Regions from separate parts of the Homo sapiens genome. Here regions 2 and 3 are each linked to region 1. Evidence: fine-mapped expression QTL. A gene starts in region 1. Each other region holds a variant in brackets. All regions are shown on one strand. Distances are from middle to middle.

Region 1 (2,763 bases):
TTACAATTCACAAATATTTCTATATTGAAAATGAAGAAAAACACTCGAAAGTGAAAAAGATCTTGATTAAACCTAATACATATATCATGATTCAAACCAAGAAGACTTTCCTCACTGTCCTACCACCCAACACTCCAACCTCACCTTCTCCCACTCCTTAACGGGCCACCCTCCCTATACGATACACCAGACAAACTCAAAGCTGCTCACTTCTTCACAGACAGCCATCAAGCTTTTTCTTACATAGTCGTGCGCTTTGTCTGGGACGCCGTTCCCCACCTTCTCATCCAGTCCTTGCCATCCTTAACTCATAATCTTCCAAGAAGCCCTCCTTTGACAGCTAGACTAGCATACACCTTGAGGACCTTCAGGCTGAAATAACCTAGTTGCACATCCTGTTACAAATGGACTGTAAGCTTCTTCAGGCAGAGTAGCCAGACACAAATCACCCAGGTGGGGAAACTCTGTTAATTCATGCCTCCTCCTCCCCAGGACTCCTCTCCCCCAGTACAAACTCACCAAATGAAAAGGATGGGGAAGAAAGCTTACCAAATGTCAAACTGTTATTACAATGCATAAAAGTATAGTGAGTAAAAGTCATTCTGTGGCTACCAACACTTGCCTCCACAATAAAGGACTCGAAGTGGGTAATCGGCATCTAACTTGGCACTGTTCCTTGGGTCTCCTTTGCAGTCAGCCCCGCTGGATTCAGAAATGTCAGCAGCCATTTCACAAACCTGTAAGCAAGGAAAATAACACACCCTCACTATTTTAGAATCAAGACCCCAGAAGAGCAGTGTTCCTCTCAACAGAAACCTCCCCACCCCAAAGCTGTTTCAAGTCTGTTGTTGAGTGGGGGATACAAGCTGCATTCGATTCATAAAATATGAGCAATCCCAGGCACAACATCTCCTTGCTCCACAGGTCTACAGGGAAGCAAGCAGCAAATGGACCATGAAGGATGGGGCAGAGGGACTCACTAGAGAAAAACAGGAAGCAATGGGGAAGGAAAGATGGGGTGAGTACCCACGGCAGACACGGAGCAAAAAGGTCTGAGGGTGATCTGGGAGGGATGCAAACTGCAGTGAGAGAAGGGCTACAAAGGCGCCGAATGGAGAGAGGCTGGAAGTGCCTAGGAACAAGGGGTGGGTCATCGGAGAAGCCCGGGGTGCAGGGTGTGGGGGCAACTAAACGCCATGAGAGGGGCCTGGGGAGTCTAAAAAGGGCATGGGAGGGGGCGGGGTAACCAGAGCGTAAGAAGGATGAGGAGAGAAAACGAGCGCAGAATGTAAGAGCACTGAGGGGACAAGGGCGACCAGGTCTGAGGCGAAGGAGCAACCCCGGGGACGCCAGAAGGGGCCCTTGTGGGCGGGGGTGTGGAGAGGCCCGGCCCGGCCCCCTTCCGCCAGGCAGCATCTCAGCTTCCCCCACACTCTCTACGAGCTTCTCGGGAGCGGGAGAAGCACTTGGGGTCGTTACCCAGGCGGTCGCACAGGCCCCGCCGGCTCCGCTCCCGCCGCTATCGCCAGCTGAACCAACACATGCAACTCGTCTCCCCGGCCAGGGCCGCCCGAGCGCCCGACCGCCAGCAGCGCTCCCGCGAGACAATGAGCCTTTATCGCGAGATTCCGGCCGCCGCTGGGCGGATGTCGCGAGAAGCCGGAAGACGGGGGCGGAGAAAAATTGCGGAGCGTGCGCCTTGCCCTCCGGTGGGGGGCGTGGCCAAGAGGCCGAGAGGCGGGCCGCCGGCAGGCGGTGCTCGTCACCCGTTGGAGAGGATGAATCCTCGAGATGGGCGTGCCGAAGGGAACGTGACTTGCAGACGCAGAGAGCGCACCTGAGTCACAAATGACTCCCTATTAATGAGTCCGAGGATCATCGCCTCGGTGTCTGCGGTGCATCCTGGAGTCCTGACTAACCTCCAGCTACTGCATAAATCACTCCCGTGCGGGGAGATTGCAGCCGGATAGAGCGTTTGGTCGCATTTTAACACCATGCACTGAATTAAAGGAAGGTGTTCTCCCTCCCTCCCTCCCTCCCTTCCTTCTTTCCTTCCTCTCTTCTTTTCTCTCTCTCTTCGCCGGATGGAGCGTTTGGTTGCGTTTTAACACCATACACTAAATTAAAGGAATTCTTTTTTCTTTCTTTTCTGTTCTTTCTTTTCTTTCTTCTTTCTCTTCTTTCTGTCTCTTTCTTCCCCTTCCCTCCCTCCCTCCCTTCCTTCCTTCTTTCCTTCCTTCCTCCCTCCCTTCCTTCCTTCCTCCCTCCCTTCCTTCATCCTTTTCTTTATGTTTTGACAGGGTCTCACTCTGTCACCTAGGCTGGATGGAGTGCAGTTGCACAAACACGGTTCACTGCAGCCTCGACCTCCCAAGTAGTTGGGAATACAGGCGCGCGTTACCACACCCAGCTAATTTTTAATTTGTTTATAGAGGTGGGGGAATCTCCCTATGCTGTCCAGGCTGGTCTCGAACTCCCGGACTCAAGGGATCCTCCCGCCTCCGCCTCCCAAAGTGCTGGGATTACAGGCGTGAGCCACCGCGCCCGGCCTACAATTTTTTTTAATGAAAAAAAGAAAAATGTAAGAGTATGGGAATATATGGGGAAAAGAAAGATCAGATTGTTACTGTGTCTGTGTAGAAAGAAGTAGACATAAGAGACTCCATTTTGTTCTGTGCTAAGAAAAATTCTTCTGCCTTGAGATGCTGTTAATCTGTAACCCTACCACCAACCCTGTGCTTCCTGAGACCTGTGCTGTGTCAA
Region 2 (2,763 bases), 64 kb before region 1:
TGCACCTGGCCAGCTTTTTCTTTTTTCTGCATGTTCCTGTCAGTTCCATTCAAGGTAGGCCCTGAGACCGCCTGTGGCAGATGCTGGGTGCTGCAGCCAGGGTGCCAAGGTGGAGAAGGGTCCTGAGGCGTTCACAGTGAGCAGGAGTCATGGACGCAGTCACCTGTTGGCTACCTGACGTGCACTCTGATGGAGGCAGATACACACACACACACGCATGCATGCACACACACACATGTGCAGGCACACACACACAGAGCTACACTAGCAGGACAAAAATGAGGGAGTGATTGATTATATCTCAGGAATTTGACATAAAACCCTAACAAAGAGGTTGAGAGAACAACCTGAAGCCACGAGGACAAGGAGGAGACATCTGTTGCTATAATGCTTGTTTGGAAAACGTGAATTTGGGCCAGGCATAGTGGCTCACGCCTGTAATCCCAGCACATTGGGAGGCCAAGTTGGGAGGATCACTTGAGGTCAGGAGTTTGAGACCAGCCTGGCCAACATGGTGAAACTCTGTCTACTAAAAATACAAAAAATTAACCAGGCATGGTGGCTCACACCTGTAATCCCAGCTACTCAGGAGGCTGAGGCAAGAGAATCGCTTGAACCCAGGAAGTGGAGGAAAGAGTGAAACTCCATCTCAAAAATAAAATAAAAATAAAAAAATAGGCCAGGCATGGTGGCTCATGCCTGTAATCCCAGCACTTTGGGAGGCCGAGGCGGGTGGATCACAAGGTCAGGAGATCAAGACCATCCTGGCTAGCATGGTGAAACCCCATCTCTACTAAAAATCCAAAAAAAAAAAAAAATTAGCTAGGCGTGGTGGCGGGTGCCTGTAGTCCCAGCTACTTGGGAGGCTGGGGCAGGAGAATAGTGTGAACCCGGAAGGTGGAGCTTGCAGTGAGCCAAGATCATACCACTGCACTCCAGCCTGGGTGACAGAGCAAGACTCTGTCTCAAAACAATAAATAAATAAATAAATAAAATTTAAAAATAAAAATAAACTGGCATGTAATCTTTATTCCATCAAAGTTCATGGATCCCATGAATTCTAGTCAACAAATTCTGATTAAAATTATCTGTCCAACAAATCCATAGAGACAGAAAGTAGATTGTGGTAACCAGTGGCTGTGGATGTGGGGTCTCCTTTTGGGGTGATTAAAATATTCTAGAATTAGATAGCGGTAGTGGCTGCACGATTTTATTAATATGATTT[A/T]AAAAAAACCACCAAATTGTACACTTTAGAAGGGTGAATTGTATGTAAATAATAAAATGTGAATTCTGTCTCTCTTTTTGATATAGGGTCTCACTCTGTCACCCAGGCTGGAATGCAGTGGCAAGATCATGGCTCACCACAGTCTTGACCTCCCAGGATCAAGTGATCCTCCTACCTCAGCCTCCTGAGTTGCTGGAACTACTGGTGCATGGCAGTGTGTCCAGCTAATTAAAAAAAATTTTTTATTTTGTAGAGGTGGGGTTTTTCAATGTTGCCCAGAGTGGTCTCAAACTCCTTGGCTCAAGTGATCCATCTGCTTTGGCCTCCCAAAGTGCTGGGATTACAGGCATTAGCCACCATGGCTGGCCTATATCTCAATTAAAAAAATGTATTTTAAAGAAATAGCTGCCAAAGAATGACTAGAAAAGTCATAAAGGTTCTCCCCAGACACAGGGGAAGAAGCAGCCTCACTGCATACATTTAAAGGGATAGCTAAGCACCAAAATAGTTTTGTCATTAAAAACCTTCCTCTGCCCCAATATAAATGCAACGCTTCACTAATGCCTCAGAGACAGCTTGTGAAGAAGAAATCTTCCTAGGAAACACCAGAGTCCATCACGGTTTCCACTTTGAAAAGTTTATATGGCACACATGGTATACTTTGAAAAATTTCTAGTTTTGGATCCTGTTCTGCTTTAAGGTAATCTCTGCAACTACCTGTTTAGGCTCATGGCAGTGAGCATCTTGATTCTAAAATGATTAATGTTCTAGTTTTGGATCTATTCGCGGCACATAGAAACTGCTCCAGGGAACTCTGAATCTAACAAAATACCAATCTGAAGGACTAAGCAAGAATTGCCATCAGAGAGCATTTCGTGAAATAAGGCAAAGATGTTTGCTCCCCTGCTTCTATTCAACACTCATCTGGAGGTCCTAGCCAGAGCAGTAAGGGAAGAAAATGAAATAAGGCATAAATATTGGAAAAAGGAATAAAACTGTCTCTATTCATGAATGACATGATTGTGTAGAAAATCCTAAGGAATCTACAAAAAAACTACTAGAATAGGCTGGGTGTGGTGGCTCACGTCTGTAATCCCAGCATTTTGGGAGGCTGAGGCGGGCGGATCACAAGGTCAGGAGATGGAGACCATCCTGGCTAACACGGTGAAAGCCCGTCTCTACCAAAAAATGCAAAAAATTAGCCGGGTGTGGTGGCGGGCGCCTGTAGTCCCAGCTACTCGGGAGGCTGAGGCAGGAGAATGGCGTGAACCCGGGAGGCGGAGCTTGCAGTGAGCCGAGATCGCGCCACTGGCACCAAGGCCTGGGCGACAGAGCGAGACTCCGTCTCAAAAAAGAAAAAAAAAAACCTGTTAAGTTGGAAGTAATCAAAATTTTAAATTTCGCTTTTTAAAAGACACTGTTAAGAAAAGCCAGGCCAGGCACAGCGGCTCACGCCTATAATCCCAGCACTTTGGGAGGCTGAGGCAGGAGGATTGCTTGAACCCAAGAGTTTGAGACCAGCCTGGGCAACATTGTGG
Region 3 (2,763 bases), 37 kb before region 1:
TGGGAGGCTGAGGCGGGTGGATCACCTGAGGTCAGGAGTTCGAAACCAGCCTGGCCAACCTGGTAAAACCCCGTCTCTACTAAAAATACAAAAATTAGCTGGGTGTGGTGGTGGGCGACTGTAATCCCAGCTACTCAGAAGGCTGAGGCAGGAGAATTGCTTGAGAGGCAGGCGGGGGTTGCAGTGAGCTGAGATCGCGCCATTGCACTCCAGCCTGGGCGACAAGAGTGAAATTCTGTCTCAAAAATAAATAAATAAATAAAACTAAAAATAAAAATCTGCTCGTGTCATTTCTCAGTGAGAAGCCTTGCTACTGCACTGAGGATGAAATCCAAATCCATTACCACAAACTGCAGAGCCCAGCATGACCTGACCTGCCCATCTCCCCACCGCCGTTCCCTCCTTTCCTTCTGTTCCTTGAGTATGTCTGTGGTATAAGAAGAAATAGATGTGGTTTTTGTCCTCTGTTCCTGGAGAACAGAGCTCCTAAAACTTGTGGAATTTCCTAAGTGACAGAAGCATCTTTTGTCATTCATGAAGAGTCAGTTGATTACACCAGACTACATGCTAACGAGGTGACTCAGGGTGGAGCTCCTACGTGGCCTCAGGATGCAGACAGCCACCAGAAACACCAAGTGAAGACAGGGCTGGAACCTGCAGTCCCACTTGTGGACCTCCAGGAAGGGGAGGGAGGGCTGGAGATTGAGCTCTATAAAAATTCCTCTTCTTTTTTTTTATTTTTTTGAGGCAGGATCTTGCTCTGTTGCCCAGGCTGAAGTGTAGTGGCCAATCTTGGCTCACTGCAACCTCCACCTCCTGGGATCAAGAAATCCTTTCACTTTGCCTCTCGAGTAGCTGGGACTACAGGATCACACCACCATGCCTGGCTAATTTTTTGTAGAGACAGGGTTCTGCCATGTTATCCAGGCTGGTCTTCTTGAAGTCCTGGCCTCAAGCAATCTGCCTGCTTTGGCCTCCCAAAGTGCTAGGATTACAGATGTGAGCCATCATGCCCAGCCACTATTTTTCTTTTCTAAAAAAAAAGTTTTAAGCTGGGTGTGGTGGCTCATGCCTGTAATCCCAGCACTTTTGGGAGGCTGAGGCAGGTGGATCACAAGCTCAGGAGTTTGAGACCAGCCTGACCAACATGATGAAACCCTGTCTCTACTAAAAATACAAAAATTAGCCGGGCATGGTGGCACCCACCTGTAATCCCAGCTACTCAGGAGGCTGAGGCAGGAGAATTGCTTGAACCCAGGAGGTGGAGGTTGCAGTGAGCTGAGATCACGCCATTGCACTCCAGCCTGGGCAGCAGAGCAAGACACTATCTCAAAAAAAAAAAAGTTTTAATATTGAATTTATAAAATGTTTTTAGTATATAAATATTGACAGAACAGACTTCTTTCTACTTGAATATTTTACCTCGGTGTATATAAACATTCAATAAATACCAAATACCTAGAGTG[T/C]AGCCCTTGTGCCATGCTATTAACAGTACACTGAAAAAGAGAAGCAGAGTCTGTTCCTGCTGTCAAGGGGATGATAATACGATTATGGTTTTAGCTGAAGCTACAAATGGAGATAAGACCTATGGCTAACCATAGGTCAAGGCATCATAAGGACAACATTTTTGAATGCTGAATCTTTTAAGTTAAATCAGCAAAGATCGGCTGGGTGTGTTGGCTCACGCCTGTAGATCTCAGCACTTTGGGAGGCCAAGGCAGAGGGATTCACCTGAGGTCGGGAGTTCCAGACTAGTCTGGCCAACATGGCAAAACTCTGTCTCTACTAAACATCCAAAAATTAGCCAGGCATGGTGGTAGGTGCCTGTAATCCCAGCTACTCGGGAAGCTGAGACAGGAGAATAGCTTGAACCCAGGAGGTGGAGGCAGTGGTGAACCAAGATTGCACCACCGCACTCCAGCCTGGGTGACAGAGTGAGATTCTGTCGAAAATAAATAAATCGGCAAAAATAAAAATTCCTAATTTCAGAATCAGAAGTTTCTGCCCTCACCATGGGAAGAAATGCCCAGGCTAGCCTGATAGCAAGACGATGAAATGTGTGAGCCAAAACTGCCCAGATGGGAAGCTCAGTGAGGCCCAACCACAGTCAGCCAACTCCCCCATTTGCCTCTAGACATGTGGGTTTAATAAATGCTACGACTGTCTGCCACTGAGATACTGATGTTGTCTGCCACAAAGCATGTATTAGCGATAGCTAATGGTACAGCCACCTCAACTAAGGCAGGATTACTTTAAAATATGATACATTCTGCAGTTTTCCCCAACTCTGTTATATATCTTATAAGACACAAATTGCAGCATAATCCTATATAAATGAAATGGATATTTCACGTTAGGGTCTAAGGCCAGGAATTGATCTACTCTCAAGCATAAGATTAAGTGAACCCAGATGAAAAACTATATTCCCAAGATAATACATTTGTATCTTAAATGTAGGTCTCTTCCTTACCTTTTAGTTTGTTGACTTCAATCTTAAGTGCCTTCAATTTCTGCTTATAATCTTGCTTTTCTTTCACAATACAAGTCTCCGCCATCTTGGCATCACGTAGGGCATGCTCTAGCATTTTAAATTTACCCGAACAATCTGCAATGTGATTAACTGCCTCAATAATATCTTTGTCCTAAAAACCAAATTTGAAAATGGTTATCCTAGATTCTTAAATTCCAATTAACCAAGAAGAAAAGATAACACTAAGATCTTATCGTGTGCCAGGTTCCACTCTAAGCATTTTTCGCATATGA

Evidence for each region.
Region 2: its variant is fine-mapped to the expression of DENR in whole blood (INTERVAL, PIP 0.99).
Region 3: its variant is fine-mapped to the expression of DENR in fibroblasts (GTEx, PIP above 0.99).

The regions. Positions count from the first base shown.
Region 1 is chr12:122,751,667-122,754,429 of GRCh38, reverse strand. It overlaps DENR (density regulated re-initiation and release factor), which reads right to left and starts at 1,606. Exons shown (of 8, transcript NM_003677.5): 1 at 1,480-1,606; 2 at 623-737. The coding sequence starts at 728. RefSeq lists enhancers at 1,098-1,157, 2,249-2,763 and a silencer at 1,298-1,347.
Region 2 is chr12:122,815,274-122,818,036 of GRCh38, reverse strand. The region is part of intron 11 of CCDC62 (coiled-coil domain containing 62); the gene reads right to left. Among named protein-coding and RNA genes, the nearest start is that of HIP1R, 19 kb to the left of the region's middle. The variant A/T (reference allele first, on the strand shown) is at 1,226.
Region 3 is chr12:122,788,637-122,791,399 of GRCh38, reverse strand. CCDC62 (coiled-coil domain containing 62) reads right to left here. Exons shown (of 13, transcript NM_201435.5): 5 at 2,471-2,642. Among named protein-coding and RNA genes, the nearest start is that of CCDC62, 15 kb to the right of the region's middle. RefSeq lists an enhancer at 944-1,497. The variant T/C (reference allele first, on the strand shown) is at 1,467.